2 separate regions of the Homo sapiens genome follow, and region 2 is linked to region 1. A link means that fine-mapping ties the variant in region 1 to the expression of a gene that starts in the linked region. Tissue or cell type: whole blood. Region 1 holds a variant in brackets; the other region holds the start of a gene. All regions are shown on one strand. Distances are from middle to middle.

Region 1 (8,110 bases):
GAGTAGAGGGAAGCACTAGAAACAGGAACTATGCAATCATAAACTTGTACTATGGGAGACACCCTAGTGAACAACAACCCCCTCACCACACTTTACTGTTTAGATTCTGGCTCCCTTTCAAATAAGAAAGGTACAATATAGCGATTATTATTATTATTATTTTTTTTTTTTTTGAGTTGGAGTTTCACTCTTGTTGCCCAGGCTGGAGTGCAATGGCACCATCTTGGCTCACCGCAACCTCCGCCTCCTGGGTTCAAGCAACTCTCCTGCCTCAGCCTCCCGAGTAGCTGAGATTACAAGCATGCACCACCATGCCCACTAATTTTATATTTTTAGTGGAGATGGGGTTTCTCCATGTTGGTCAGGCTGGTCTGGAACTCCCAACCTCAGGTGATCCGCCACCTCAGCCTCCCAAAGTGCTGGGATTACAGGCATGAGCCATCGCACCCAGCCCAATATAGTGATTATTTTTTAATGGGCAATAGTAATAATCCTTCTACTTAAATAGGATTTTCCACAGGAGGAAGCTTTGGGTTTAATCAATAGGATTCACTCTATTTGCCCACGGCTTAGAGGCCAGCAAAAGTTCAGCAACCTTCTTCAATTCACATGGTCAGTTGAGAATGATCCATTTGCAAAACTTAAACATCAAGATAATCCAATTCTGCGGAGGGTGCTGCCTGCTCTGCTGCCATATGAGGCATTTGTGTGAGAAAACCCAAGCAGCCAAAACTCATACCTAATCCTTGGGACTTGGAGATTTCATTTACCTTAAGTCTTTTGGGGTTGAGTTATCTTGGCAACCTGTAGCGTCTAAGCATGCAGTATCTGTATCAAGGAACGGCTTATAAAATTCATCCAAAAGGACTCCCAAGATTCTGGGGGCATCAAATAGCTCACACACAACATTTTGCAAGGAAATGAGTCAGCACTAGGTAGATTCCATTTTTCAAGTAGAGTGCTAGCTTCCTGTCCTACTATCTCCAGTCCTGGGAGGAGAGCCTCAACGGGGAGAGGAAGATTGAAGATTTTCTGGGCATGGTGAGCTTGGGTTTCCTTTGAGCCGTAAGTGTTTATGAAAACAATAAGGAATATTAGATAATATCAAAACATGTTCAAGATGACTTTGCTTTAGGCAAAAACCATGCATTTCTAAAGCTAGCCATGGGCCTCCTAAAAGTTCCTCTTTGTGGTCACTAACCCAAGTTGACTGACCCCAATACATTTAGCAACAAATGATGAGTTTACATTCATGTTCTCAGCACCAAATTCTTTAATCTTTAGCTTTGTAACTTAATAGATATACTGTGAGTCTTATAAATGAAGGAATACAAATAAGAACCAGGTCTATTTGGTATCTGTGATGCACCAGCTCTACAAGAGGGGCTTTTCCAGTAAATAAGATTCAAATTTACCAATATCCTTTAGAGTAGTCAGTCGTTATGAGATGGGCTGTGGAATGAATCTGTCCTAATTCATTCCCGGATCCTCCACCCATGGCTGGGTGACCTAATTTAACCCCTCTGTGCCTCAGTTTTTCGGTCTGTAAAGTGTGGATAAGAAGACCTTCTAGTTCAAATATCAAGTGTCTTAGGCCTGCAAACGAACAACTTTTTAGTAAACTTTTAGAGCAGCCTTCTAAAGCAATCAGGGAGGAGAGGGAAAGATACACAAAACAAGCCAGTTGGATTTTGCCAAAATCAGTTCCTTGTCCCTGTCAACCACCTGGCTTCATGGTCATTCCATGTCCCCTGTTTTCCCAAGGACATAATCAGGGATATAGCTACTTTGTGCCTCACTGCCCCTGGCTGTGGGCTTCCCTGGGGAGATCAAGATAGGCTTTATAAGTCCTTTGCCCCGTCATGAAACAGTACCCTGACTACACACTCAGCCTGGTCTGGTATGAGCACCCACTTCCAGTCTAGACGGCAGCCTAAGAGAGGGGCTAATGCTAGGTTGCACCAGACTGAGCCTCATACTTGTCATGGCTCTGCCCACGGTGATTCCTTTGATCTTGATCCTAGCAAACCACAGTCATCGACAAAGGTAGAATGGATTTCTGCTTCTGAAAAGCTTTGATGGAAACTCCCTTGATTTCCCATTCCCTCCCCAGCCCTTCTGCTCCTTTAGATTTACCTCCAACATTTAGTCCTAAATCCAGCTGTAAATCCAGCCTGAGAGAGCCCATCAAACCGGCATGATTCATGTGCCATCCTGTTTGGATATCTGGGGCCATAGCTGACCCACTTGGGAAAGTACACGGTCATTTTTACTTCGCCAGGCATCCTAATCACAGATTCCAGGCTCAGTATTCTTTGTTTAATTTTCTCTGAGAATTGGCTGGACTGTGATCTGATCCTCAGAGAAAGGCAATCATTTCTAAAGGGTAGATTTTTAGAAAAGTTTGCAATTACAAACAACGAAAAATATATGCAGGCTTTCTGCGGTTATGCTGAAGGAATGTGCAGGACATCCATGCCCCTGTCATCTCAAGGCTCTCTTCTAAAATCAGGACCTGTTTCCAGGGCTCTTTGCAGCAGTGTTTCCCTTTCATTTCTTGTGTGAAGAAAGGAAGTAACTTGAGAAAGCAACTTTTAAGAAACTTGAAACACGTTTACTTGTTTCCCAGGCTTCAGGTTAGGGCTGATGGCTCCACAAAGTAAGTGCAGCCAGATTCATGAAACTCGTAACGTTTTGGAGGTGATGTCTAACTGACCGTCTCATTCTACAAATGAGAGCACTAAAACCTTGGAAAAGCTAAAGCTTGCTGGAGGCCTAAGTGATTTCACAAACAGAGCTTGTCTGGAACTTAGTACTTTTAATTCCTAAGCCAGTGCCTATGCCCTAAGCCAATAGGTAATCCAGTGGGCAGTGGTCCCCAAGGCAGGCCAGGCCTGAGCTACTGATAACCCTCTTTATCCCAGTCCTGTGAAACATCAATTTCAGTTAATGCCAATAGCTTCAGGGGCAGTTTTTCAAAGCCCTCTCTCCAGGACATCAGCCTGGATGCAGAGCACAGAGAAATAAAATAATTTACATAGTTTACTAACTCTAAAACTCAGAACTGAGAAGAGAAAGGGCCAGTTTTTCCATATGCAGACTTCAACCTTCTCAAGACCCAAATGACAGGTAAAAATACACATTCGAATGTCTCTCCTTGCACACACACCGTCAAGACCACTTTGCCTTCCCTCTTTCCCAAAGCGAAAGAATGGATATGCTGGGAGTGTTTGGTAGCCTGCTATCAGAAGAAAATAGAGACATCATCATTTTCCCTTTTTGACATTTTTTTTTCCTGCCAGTAAAAGAGAGAGAAACTTGCTTAGGGATCAAAATATTAGCTGGAGAAAGAATTTACAGGGGTGCTGGCAGCTGGTTGGCTGTAGAGGGAGAAAGCCTGTGGGGTGTGGACCGCCAGTCTCGGAAAAGCGCACTGCAGAGCAGGGTGCAGGAGAACCCAGCAAAGCAGGATTTGACAGGTGCCTGGCTCAGGCTCCCACTGGCCAGGCAATCGTCAGCTCTGTTCTGCTTGGCTCTCTTAAACAACAAGTTAAGAGCCAGCTGCTTTCTGCGCTTGGCTCTGAAATCAGCAGGTCTCTCTGCTCTGTTCAGCGGAGGCATCCCCAGCAGGGAGTTAGTCAGGGTACTGGCTAGAGCCTTCATGCCTCAGAGTAAAGGCTTATGAAGGAGGTAATTACGCAGCTGGAAATGGGCAGGCCCTTAGGGCAAAAGAGAAAGAAAGGAAGGTGATCTTCTCACTTACTTAATGCTTAAAAGAAAAAAAATACCCTATGCCTGTCAAAGAGAAGCATCCTAGTATTAGTGGTGCTATGATCAGAGATCCCCTCTCCCTTACCCATTGTGTGGTTACTAAATCAACACAGGAAGCCTGTCCACAAGACTTCAATGTCAACATTGCCCGCCCCTACCTGACCACCAATTTTGCATTGATTAGCTTCCATGATTCCCTGTCAGGCAATTTAGTTGTTTAGTTGCTGGTTAGTTGTTTCTATTTTCCTGAGCATTCTTCTCAAACCTGTTCCCAATGTTTATACTCTGGAGCTACTGACCACCCTTTCCTTTCCCGAACTCTTCCACTGTCATCAATTCCTCGAGAGGTCAACATTACTGCGGGCAGAAGGAAAGATGGCTGACCCTGGCCCTGGACTTCCTTCCCTCTGACACACTGAATACCCTTCGTCAAAAAACCATAATCCAAACTGCAATGTTGGTGCCT[A/G]TAAGAGAGCTAGTCCCGCTCTCCTCAGAGAGCCCAGCTTGGAGATTTCTGATGTTGAAGTTACCTGCCAATTAGAATGGCCACATTGCAAAATCCACGTGTATTTTACACAGAACAGCCACTTCAGATCTTCATTCACTCAAGGGCCTGCAGTTGTATCTGTTAAAGGTGTCACAATAAATGAACTCATTAAAGTACCACTCGTTTTTTTGATTTCTTGCAAGGTTAGCAATTAGAAATTTTTTTCCTTAGCTTCAGAAAACGTTCTTTAAACAAAAGCTTGCTTGGAAGAGATAAACTGGCAACTGCTCTGGTTGAGGAAGAAGTAGTGGGGTATTCTGTGCTCTGGCCCTTAGTCCCGTGAAGCATGATTTAGGAAACTAATTTGTCCTAGTGTCTCCCTTTTTTTTTTTTTTTTTTTTTTTTTTTTGAGACGGAGTCTCGCTCTGTCGCCCAGGCTGGAGTGCAGTGGCGCAATCTCTGCTCACTGCAAACTCCGCCTCCTGGGTTCACGCCATTCTCCTGCCTCAGCCTCCCGAGTAGCTGGGACTACAGGCACCCGCCACTACGCCCAGCTAATTTTTTGTATTTTTGGTAGAGATGGGGTTTCACCATATTGGCCAGGATGGTCTCCATCTCCTGACCTCATGATCTGCCCGCCTCGGCCTCCCAAAGTGTTGGGATTACAGGCGTGAGCCACCGCGCCCGACCTAGTGTCTCCCATATTTGAACACTTCTTCCTTTCATGCTTGCCTCTTTGGAATATTCGTTTATTTCATAAAACTTAAGGCTATTTTGACATCTTTTAAAATTGCATCAAACAACTTTACTTTCTCCTCAAGTTATGTTATGATTGTCTGTTGTTACTCAATGCAAAATAGTCATTTCCCATCAAGTTTCTTTTGTTTCCACTCAATGTTTTCTCTCCAACTCACCAGCATTTCCTAGCTGCCATTCTTTCTCTTCCCAATTTGACACTCTTTTCATCCAGCTTGGTCTGGCTTCCAAATCACCCTTTCTTAGTACTTTCATCCTACAACAACATTTAATTTAGTATTTTGTGGTTGAAATGATCCAGAGAGGATCAGAGAATTGGAGTGACTTGCCTAAGATCACACCACTAATATGGCAGAGTAAAGACAGAACTCAAGCTTTTCAACAGCTTGGCTCCCCTTTCTTCCTCTTTTGTTCCTCTACTGGCTCTTTAGTTCTCACTCTGGTCCACATGTGTATAGACCCAGTCAATAGTTTCTATGGATATCCTGACTGCCCCTATAAAATAAGTGGGTTGCATTAGCAATTTCCAATGTCATCTTTCAGCTTCATCTTTCTATGAGGAATGGGAGTGGTTAAGATCATTGACACTGATCAAACCATTCAGGCTTTATTCTAGTAGAGGTAAAACTCTTTTGACAATTCTTAAGTATACAGGTAACTTTCTATTAAACGGTTTCCTCTTGCACATACTTTGGTCTCCAGCCCTAGCCAAAACCCAGGCATGCAGAACTGGCAAACTGCTTGGAGGAAGACCTTCCAAAGATCTCAGAAATTTCAAGAAAGGCTTTTGTGGTATTTCTGGCCCAGCCAGAATCAGGAAGTACCTGATCACTCACAAGGAAACTAGTTTTTGCACAATTTCCAACATCTCCCCCCACAACCCCCACTTCATCCTAAAGCCTTTCTTGAGCCACACATTCCTGCCCCTTCCCCAAACACAGGTTTCTGCAGAGTCAAAACTTTTGATAGTTCAGATAAGGTTCAAATGAGCTGCTGAACTCTTGGAGGCTGGAAGTGAACCTAGCATTTTGTTCCTTGCTCATCCCCGGTAATGAGTATACCAGGCTGGCTATGTCAAGGTGGTTTGGGTCACATAGTGAAAATCAACATAATTGAAAGCATTAATCAACAAACAATTACATGTAATGGTACAGAATGACTACTTATGAGGCCTTACATGATTCTGACCAAATCTGCCTATGGTAATAACAGGAGGCACACAACTGTACCAGAGGGTTTTTGTTTTGTTTTGTTTTTTCAAGAAATAAATGCTGAGGGCTTGCTTTGGTTCAAAAAAAAAAAAAAAAGAAAGATGCTTTCAAAGGTAGAGATGAGGAGAACAAGATTTGTGTTATGGAGCCAATGAACTTCAAATTATCCTCCAAATGTAAAGTATATTCTAGATATTTTACTGGGTAGAGCGGGAAAAAAGCTTCAACACATTTCAAGTGGATGTTGCTTTGAGTTTTTCTTTAAGATGCTTACTTTAGAAGACAGATTTCATTATGCTTTAGTTGCTTTCAATCATTAGAACTTTGGAGTTGATTTTGAAATACTTATTTCTTGCATGAACTTGGGGAAGTAGGGGAAGCAATTAGATCTTGTGATTTTTAAGGCTACACTGAGGATAAGGTAAGAAAATATCATAAATTTTATTTCATGCTTTCTTGCCAATTGACAGAAATGTGCAGTCCATATGAATTCATATAACAAGGGTGGAATGTTGGAAAAACCAATAAAGATTTTGTGGTCTGACCTATAATAAATGTAGTTTGATTTAGAGTCTGTTTTTCACAACATGGCAAAATGAATCATAAAATAATGGGCCCTGAAACTCCTGTACTTTTTAACAATAGCCTGGGGACAGTTTACTGTGTAATGAATTGTAATTAACCCACCTTCAAAATATTTTATGAGTATTTTGCCAATTAGCTTCGCATGCTTGCTAATGACTCATGGCTAGTGCATGTCTTTACAGAACCGGATTTTACAGAGCACATCGCCCTGTTAACTCAGCACAAGTGTGCAACATGGGAAGGATGACATAGGTAGGTTGGAACACCCTCAACAGCATCCCTACTTTGCCAACCCAGTGGACTCAGCCATCATCCCCCAAGCCTAAGATAATCATAATGGCTTGTGGTGTCAGAGAACTTTGGTTTCTGATGGATTGCAAGGAATGCTTCTCTCCCTGCAGACACATCTGTTGTTACTTAGCACTAACATATATAATGCTACTAATTGTGGAGCCATCTTTGTTTTCTTTACTTAGCACTCTGGTTAGCATTATTTTATCTTCATGGTTCATGGATTTCTGCCACTGACAACATAAGTCCACTCTAGAGAAAATAAAACAACTACCAAGCTGTCTCCTTACATTGCTTTGCTTTGAAATTAGAGGGATCGTGTACAGCCAAGCATGCTTCCTAGGATTCTAGCTCTGATCTTGCTATGTCAAGAGTTGGCTTTTCCTTGAAAAACTAGTGCTTCCACTGGCCTGTGAACTGACTAAAGGGACTGCAGAAAGAAGCCCAGTCTGGCTCTAAATTCCATGCACTGAGAAAGTTAATCGCAGGCAAGGTCAAACGTTCCCAACTCTTTGTTCTTCAGAGGCCAAGCCAACAAATTCCAAAGCCAATTTAAGAGATCTAACCAGAGATGGCAAAATAGTTCCATTTTCATTTCATTCAACTATGAATAAAGAATCTATAAGGATTAATTAAGGATCTATATAATTAAGGATCTATAATGTCACCAGTGTTTTTTCTGCCAGCAAGGTCGTATACCATAATAAAGATATAGAGGCTAATTTTCAGTAGTATAACACAATAATGTAGTGCTTGGGGAAATCTAAACTACACAGGAATTATTTCACCCTGATGCCTAGAAAAGTAAACAGCAGCTTTTAGCCTCACTCCTTAAGGCAATGGTGGTCTAAATTGCAGGGAAATCTTGTTACATAAAAAAGGCTACTCTAAAGAAGGCCAAAGACAAAGGGGAAAAAGTTTGAGTTCCTCCTGAGGGTTCTGCTTATATCCTAGGGGGTATTGCCTCAGCAGGAAAGTCAATATGGTCCCACTTCCCTCAGTGAAGAAC
Region 2 (8,110 bases), 120 kb after region 1:
TAAGATTGATTGTAGTATTGATCTCCCACGGGGATTAGATTGGGATTCAAAATCTTCCAAACCAGGCCCAGATCAACTATAAATTAGAAAGACTTTGGGGCCCTGGGCTTTGATTTTTCAATACTATCTCTGAAAACTCTGCCCTTGGCTCTGTCTACCCTAAAACCCTGGCTTAAGCGGCAGATTTATAGAGCAAAAGCTTCCAAACAGACTTAAAGAAATCTCAATCTGCCTCCCTTTTTCTCCTTTTCCCTCTGTGGAATTCTTGCACGTTTAGCTGACTAGAGGCATGCCTTTTGCCCTCATCTTCCCCATCACTTGATTTCTCTCCAATTCTTCCAGGAGGAGTAGCTCTTCTGGCTGCAAGCCAGGAAGAGGGTGCGGAGTTACTAAAGGGGAATCCCTGGCTCCCCCACCACACAAGCAGTGAGTTAAAATCAGATTCAGAAACGATAGTACAGAAGCAAGAGTGGAAACGTCCGCTGGTGCCCCGGCCAAGCTGCCTCTACAGGGACGGCTGCAGTCTGCCCACGGTGGAGGGCTTTGCAGGGTGACTCCCCGCCCCCACGCCCTGCTCCATGCCTCACCTTCATGGTGGAAGCTGCGCACAGTGTTGGCTCGGCTGGCTGCCCTCTCCAACCGGTGGTCTGGGGCGGGTGAGCCCGGCTGACCTGAGTGCCTGCGATACAGGTCTAGCATGTAGGGGGGCACCACGGCGTCCCTGCTGGGGGTGGGTCTCTGTTTCAGGCCGAACATGCTGAGCAGCCGCAACTCGAACTCGCTCAGGACCTCGTCAGAGGGCTGGGATGAGGGGCGGCCCGACGACGCCGCCGCGAACTTCCTGCGGCCCAGCTCCGGAACGAGGCCAGCCGCGCCGCCCAGGAGGACCTGGGGAAGCAGCAACGCTAGAAGACAGCGGGTCCCGGCCACCATGGTCGACCTGCGGACAGGACCGACGTGAGTCACCCGAGTTCCCCGCCCAGTCCTCCCCCCTCGCGCCCCCGCGGCCCGGTCTCCCATTTGGCTGGCGTGCCTCCTCCAGGATGCCCTCCTGGCTTGGCACACTCACGAGTCTAGGTAAGACCGACCGAAGCTCAAACGTTTGGGATAATGAAGGGTCCCAAGTTCCTGAACCAGATGATTTATCGCTCCCATCCAACGCTTAGCTCGTCTGACATCAGATTTGGGATTTGCCCTCCCCCCCAACCAAACCAGCGCCAATGACTGTCACTTTTTTGTGTGTGACACAGCGCTGACAGCCAATGCCGGGAACCTGGGAAAACCACCGCTTGATCTGACACCCTGCGTCCCCTATACAAACCCAAATGCGGAGTGCTGAGCGCTGTCTGGCATATAAACACACATAAATGGTGCATGTGACTTCCTTAGAGGCACTGTATAGAACTTCCTGACACACACACACACACACACACACACACACACACACCCTTATAGCTTCCAGACCCTGTAAGCTCAAGGCCACAACTTCTGAAGCCACTTATGACTTGTGTCCCAGGCCCCTACCCTCAGGGGTGTCTCGAAAGGCAGCTCCATCCCGCATCCCCACAGTGCAGTCAAGATACACATGTATCTTCCCGGGATTACGTAAATGGTGAATATCTATTAATGCACGTGTCAGCTGTTAAAAACACAGTACCAAGTGATCCTTCAGTACTGACCCCTCGCATTTCTGGAAACAAGTAGGGAGAACCCCAAACTCCTAGTACTTTCCTAAATGGGACACGGCTCTGAGCAAAGAAACCAAGTCTCCCGGAAACACTTGAAGAATGGAGATCACCATGGCAGAGCGGACAGGTTCTCAGCTAACGGGTGAAACCCAGGGGCTACCCTCTCAAAGGGATTTCTTTGACCCAAAAAAGTTTTTAAAAAAATTAAAAATAAATAAATAAATAAATAAAACACCTCATCTAAGTGTTAACAGCTCCAAAAGTATTCCAGGGAGAGGGGAAGAAAGAGGGGTGGAAGAGTGCGGGCCGGGAGGGTGAGGCTTACGGTCGCCCGGGGCAGCTGGAAGTGGGAGCCCCTGCAGGGCTCCGTTGCACGTGGACTGGAGAGGGGTCTGTTTACTTCTGGCCTGGACGTAAGGAAGGGCTCTACCGCAGTGGCTGCCCAAATCCCCCTCCCACCCACCACCCACCCCGGGCCCTGGCCCGCGTCCTCTACCTTTAGGAGACCGCAGTCCGTCTAAGAAGCACGCGGGGACACGTCCATTGAAAGAGCGTCCACATGGAAAAACTCTGGTCAAAGGACCTGGCGCAAGGACCGAATGTCCGTTCCTTTTCTTTGCCTCCTCCTTCTCCCGGGTGCCGGCCGCGCAGTCTCTCTTTTCACGCTGGGAACAGCGTCTCAGTGTCGGGCAAGGCCGAGGAGTGGAGGGGCGGTGGGGCTCGGAGATGGCGAAGCAGGCTCCGCTGGGGCAAAGGCACCGGCGCAAAGTGGGGTGCGCAAGTTATTCTCCCTGCAAGTTCAAGAAGTCCCCAGCCAAGTGCTGACACACAACAACAGCGAGCAGGGGGAGGAGTGCGGGGCAGGGAAGGGAAGGGAGAAAGGAGAAGCTGGTGCTGTCGTCCTCCTTAGGAACCAGCGCCCGAGGGACGCGTGGCCCCGCGCGGGGCCGGCTCCGGGACTCGGGGGTCGAGGGTCGGGCGCTCCGCGCTAGCTCCGCCGCGGCCCATGGCTCGGGGCAGCCATCCTGGGCGACGCCGGGTCCAGGGAAGGGCACGGCGGCGATCTCGGTGCCAGGCGAGTTGCCCCCCCGCATCACTCTGCCTTACTCCAGTGCACCCCCATTCGCGCTCGCCAGTTGAAAGCACCGCGGCTCTGGCGCCCCGTCGTCCTCGGGCGCATTCTCCGGCGAGTCGAGCCGAGTCCCGGGCCGCCGAGGCGGGTGGCTGTGCTCTCCCCTCGCTCTCCTAGCCCTGGGGCCAAGTGCCCTTTGTGGCTAGCCTGGGGTCCGATCACACCTCGGCCAGCGCGTCCCAGGCCCCCGATCTCCTGCAGTAGGTGCTCCGCATCGCGGCGCTAGGGATCGGCTCCGGAGTCCCCGGCGCTCTGCGCGCCCGTCCGCGGCTCTGGCGCAGCCCGGGCAGCAGAGGCCACGGCGCTGTGGCGCGCTCTGCCGGGTGCTCCAGCCCGCGCGGGGTCTGCGGCGCGCGGGTGCCTCGCGGTCCCCGGTGATCCACTCGGCGCTGGCCCCGAGAACGTTCGGGTAGCCGGCGGAGGCTGTGGCGGCAGATGTGCGGCGGCGGCTGCCAGTCCCCGGCGGGGTGTGGGAAGCGGAGCGACTAGCGCAGCGCGAGCCGGGCGCAGCGCGGCGGGGCGAGGACTCCGGCGGCGGCGACGGCGGCGGCGGCGCCGTGGCGCGGCGCTCGCGGCTTTTAAAGGGGACGCCGCCTGCCGGCTCCCTCCCGGCCGCGGCCGAACACCTCCCCCTTCGCGGCGCGGCTCGCCGGGGATCCCCGAGCGGGCGGGAGCTGCGCGCAGGGGTGTGGACGGCGCGCCCGGGCAGCCGCGGCGGGGTGGGGCGGAGGGCGGGGGCGCGCGGCCGCCAAGGGGGGCGCTCGCGCCTCCACTCCCTGCTCTCAAAGGAGAGATCAGCTGGCGCGCCGGACCCTCGCGGGGACTCTGGAGGCGAAATCCAGGACAAATGCAGGGTCAGGGTCTGGCCTCTTATTTCCCCGCTGGGCCCGTTATTCAACTTTCAGTTTGAAGTTTTTCGGTAATATACGATTTCAAAAAACAAAACAAAACAAAACACCTCAATTACAGCGTATTTTGGCATAGCATAGACGTGGGATCCACGCTTCTGTTTCCCCGGAATAGGAGGAAAATTAAAAGAAAACAGCAGGCTGGAAATTGAGTGTTTTTAAACATTAATACATAGAGATGTATGTATTTACATATGTAAATGCATGTGTACAAATTTTTTTACATAAATGTGTATGCATTTATTTTCATATCCATACGCATGTAAATTTATAGTTACATAAATATATCCAATATACAAAAATATGTGCATATATTTCTATAAATATATTCATGTATGAGAATATATGCAACCGAAGGGCCACATTTCGGTTAATATGTCTATGTATGTGACATGGATGTCATCCTGCTTTACGTGACATGTGTGTAACGTAGACTGCGTGTGTGGCAGACTGAAGGATGGATGGGAGGGATTTGATTTTTTTATTGTACAATCACTTTGTGCCTTGTGATATTTATCTCACCCAGCTCAGAGGCAGGCGATTAGCAGCTCAGAGGAAGGTAAAATAACGCACTGTGTGAACCAAGCATACAGGACAATTCCAGTTTGGGACCTTGGAACCTTCTACGCCACCCTCTTCCACCAGGCCCCCAAGAAGTAGGGCTGTGACACGTGGCCAAGTCACTCCTCAGCTGAATATTCACTGAAGTCACTCCTCAGCCGAAATACTGCTCAGAGCTGCTGCACGATGAGTCTGGGGCCAAGGCTTTCTGCCCTTCCCAGGATTCCAGGAGCCCCCATGCACAGCACCTCGGGCTTGCCCAAATGATCCCCAAAACCAAGGGCAGAAAATTTTTGGAAAAGGCCAAGTTCTGCTTTCCCAGAGCTATCGGGCCTGCGAAACAGAGAGAAAAAAGTCAGAAGCAGGAGCTGGTAATAGAACTATTATCCATGTGTATTATTTTTTCGGTAGGGGAGCTAAAATAATACTAGGTTCCGCTCACGTAAATCGGATTAGCAACCCACAGAGGCGAATTAGGCACTTGCTGTTTCTAAAGGTATAAAGGTCAAATAAGGTATTTTGGAGGAAGCCTGACTACCAGGAAAATAAAAGGGGGTGGGGGAATTATTCAGGAACATGCTACTTTATTTCCTGAAAAAAAAAAAAAAGGTGCTATAGAAGTTGATTGTCACTCAGAGTCATTGCACCGCAAACAAGGAGGCAATAAAACATATCCTACTCATGGACACAGGGCTTCTGAAATTATTTCCTTTCCTATCAAGTTTAATTGAGAAGTTAACAATTGTTTCTCTCATTACTTAGATTTCAAAAACAAAACAAAACAAAACTTCAATGAGATTTAAGTAGCTTTTAAAGAGGAGGAAAAGTTGATAACTATTGGATGCACCCGAAGAAAAAATAAATAAATATCCTGTGATGACCTCAAGGATGTCTTGCAGCTTTAGAACTTCATAACCTGGTAAGTGGAAACCTTGTCAGTTTAGAATCTGAGGGAAAATGGGTACTTCTGAACACTGTTTCATGTTAGTGCTGCCCATTGCAGAATCTCTTTTATGTAGGGTGTATGATTTCTGAGGAACTACTGAATGCTTGTTCCAAGCACAACTTACATAAATTTTGGCCCTATTTTTTTTTTTTTAGAGATGGCTGCCCTCTTGTGGTGGAAATGAGTTCGAACGCTTGAAAGAAAGAAGTCCATAAATAAATAAATAAATAAATAAGTAGTCTCCAGAGACTGATTTGGGATCGAAGTACAGGATGACTGTACCTACCCGTTTTCCAGGGAAGAGCAATAGTCAGAAATGATAAATCTAAATACAGACGAGCTATTTCTTTTTTTTTTCTCTCTCTTCACTAATGGCTACCTTCCACCTGCAACTTAGAATGCTGGGTTATTTAATACTTTGGGAGAGTGTCTGTTTGCCTTGAAAATATCACTTGCAGCTAACCATTGTCAATTCTACCGTTTTCAAAGGTCCATTCAAAGTTTTTCAGTTCAGAGGGTGAGATTCAGTCTTGCTGAGTTTATCAGACTTAGTGCATCTGCCAGCAAATGTGGAAGGGGCAGAGGTGGGAGTGGGGAGTTGTTTAAGATAGGGATAGTAGAAGTTGCAAATTCAAATGCATCAGAGGGTACAGACAAGTTATGTAAAAAAGCAAAGATGACCAGATAATGATTCCACATAAAGGAGGTTGTTGCTATTCCATTTCAGTCATCTCTTGGCAGTTTCTCAGGAGATAGTGGAAATTTGCATTTGATTGTGTGTGGACAAGACTCGGGATGAAATTAACTGCTTACAGTCATACTTTAGCAATTTTAGCACTTCAGCTCACATGATATTCCATTTTATTGCATTCTGTAGCTATTAGCATTCAGTATTGTTCTTGCTAGGCCAAACATTATGCAAATCAACATTAAAATAGTGATCCCCATGTATTGTAAAGTTCACAGCAGGCATTACGTGATCCATCTACCTTGTAATTGTCATTCCATGGAAACCTGTGGCAACTGCCCTGAGAAACCCTCTTTGCTTTTTAGCATACATATCGCTTTGTTACAAGGGTGACACCCATAACCATCCCTACTTACTTTACCTGGATGAAGTTTTTTTTACAGGAACTTGGAGCCAAGGCAAAAGAGAAGCATTTAGTCAATCAAATGTTTTCCTTTTTGGTGTTTGATTAGACATGGTAGAAAGGATGGGAGAGGTGGAGTGATTTATATCAGAAACTAGGCCAAGTTGGCCAAATCAGGATCACTGCTTTCAGCAAGTACCAACTACATCTTCTTAAAAATTAAAAAGAATGAATTTTGTGCATTGATTAGACTGTCACACAGTTTAAGATGTACACCTTAAGTTATGTCTGTAAACTATGTTGATAACACTCTAAGATGTAGTTGGGTGACCTGGGTTCTAATTCCTGGTTCTGTCATGGATGACTGACTTTAAAATGGTCATTTCATCTGTTAATTGGGGTAAATAAATATATGTTTGCTTGCTTCAGACTGACATGATGAAGGTCAAATGGATAACATGTGTGAACTTAGTTTCTGATTGCTACTCACTCTATGTATCTTCAAATGTATTCTTTGGCCTTCTGTCTGCAATATGGCCTGGTTTTAAGAAATAGGACTTTGGATGCCTTTCTTCTCCTCCTCTTTCTCCTCCTTCTCCTTCTCTTCTCCCAGCTTTTATTATATTGCCAAACAGTGGATATTTCATCAGAAAGGCCACCAGTTGGGTCAGTCAATCTAAAGCAGAGGTCCCCAACCATTTTGGCACCAGGGACCAGTTTTGTGGAGGAAAATTTTTCTACAGACCAGGTTGGGGGTGATGGTTTCAGGATGAAACGGTTCCACGTCAGATCGTCAGGCATTAGTTAGGTTCTCATAAGGAGCATGCAACCTAGATCCCTCATACATGCAGTTCACAGTAGGGTTTGAGCTCCTATGAGAATCTAATGCTGCTGCTGATCTGACAGGAGGCAGAGCTCAGGCAGTAATGCTCCCTCACCTGCCCCTGGGGGTTCCTAACAGGCCATGGACAAGTACTATTCATGGCCCGGGGGTTGGGGACCTCTGATCTATGGCAGTAACAAATTCTCATAGCCTCGGCTCCCTCATGAATACTCTATAGAGACTAACAGTTGACTTCTCATGGAGGTTGTGAAGAATAAATGAGAAGATATGTGTGAAGACAACAAAAGGTTGCAAATTTGTATTACTATATACATGCAAATTAAGGCCATCGGTTCTGGTTCTCGAAAGATGTGAGTTTATCTTATGTGATTTTCTTTTGCACTTGGTAGATTTCAAAAATATGGGTTGAATGAGCACATGCTTCTGGAAAATGATTATAGTCTTCAAAATAAGACTCCCCTGAGAAGCCTGTTGGCTTTTTAGCATGAGTAACACTTTGTTACTAGTGCAACACCCAATACCGGTTCTGATTACTTTACCTCCATGAAATTCTTTCATGGGAACCCCGGGAGCCACAGCAAAAGAGCAGCATTTAGTCATTCAAATGTTTACCTATTTTGCATTTGATTAGACATAATAGGAAGGATGAGTGGAGTGGGGTAATTTATATGCAAAGCCTAAGCCAGGCCAAATTGGCCAAGTACGATTGTTTTAAATATCCACTACATATTATTTAATTATCATATACTAATACATTTGCATACCTTGTCAATGATATTAAAATGTTTTGACTTTCTGTTAAATAGACTGTGAAGAGTCAACTATAGTATTTCCTTTTACATACAGTCTACAAATATTTATTGAGCAACTACAAAGCCCACGGCACTATGTTATTGGGCTCCAGTTAATACAAAAGTACATAATCTCTGCACATAATTTA

Evidence for each region. PIP is the estimated chance that this variant, and not a neighbour inherited with it, causes the effect.
Region 2: it holds the start of BMP2, and the variant in region 1 is fine-mapped to the expression of BMP2 in whole blood (TOPMed, PIP 0.99).

What each region holds. Positions count from the first base shown.
Region 1 is chr20:6,882,017-6,890,126 of GRCh38, reverse strand. No RefSeq gene overlaps it. Among named protein-coding and RNA genes, the nearest start is that of BMP2, 120 kb to the right of the region's middle. The variant A/G (reference allele first, on the strand shown) is at 4,238.
Region 2 is chr20:6,762,950-6,771,059 of GRCh38, reverse strand. It overlaps BMP2 (bone morphogenetic protein 2), which reads right to left and starts at 3,374. Exons shown (of 3, transcript NM_001200.4): 1 at 2,185-3,374; 2 at 588-940. The coding sequence starts at 933. LOC105372517 (a long non-coding RNA gene) reads left to right here and starts at 3,576. Exons shown (of 4, transcript XR_937229.2): 1 at 3,576-3,739; 2 at 4,255-4,660; 3 at 5,052-5,208; 4 at 5,391-5,467. RefSeq lists cis regulatory regions at 2,695-2,869, 3,510-3,609, 3,616-4,406, silencers at 3,241-3,290, 3,381-3,430 and promoters at 2,320-3,479, 2,869-3,510, 2,320-7,198.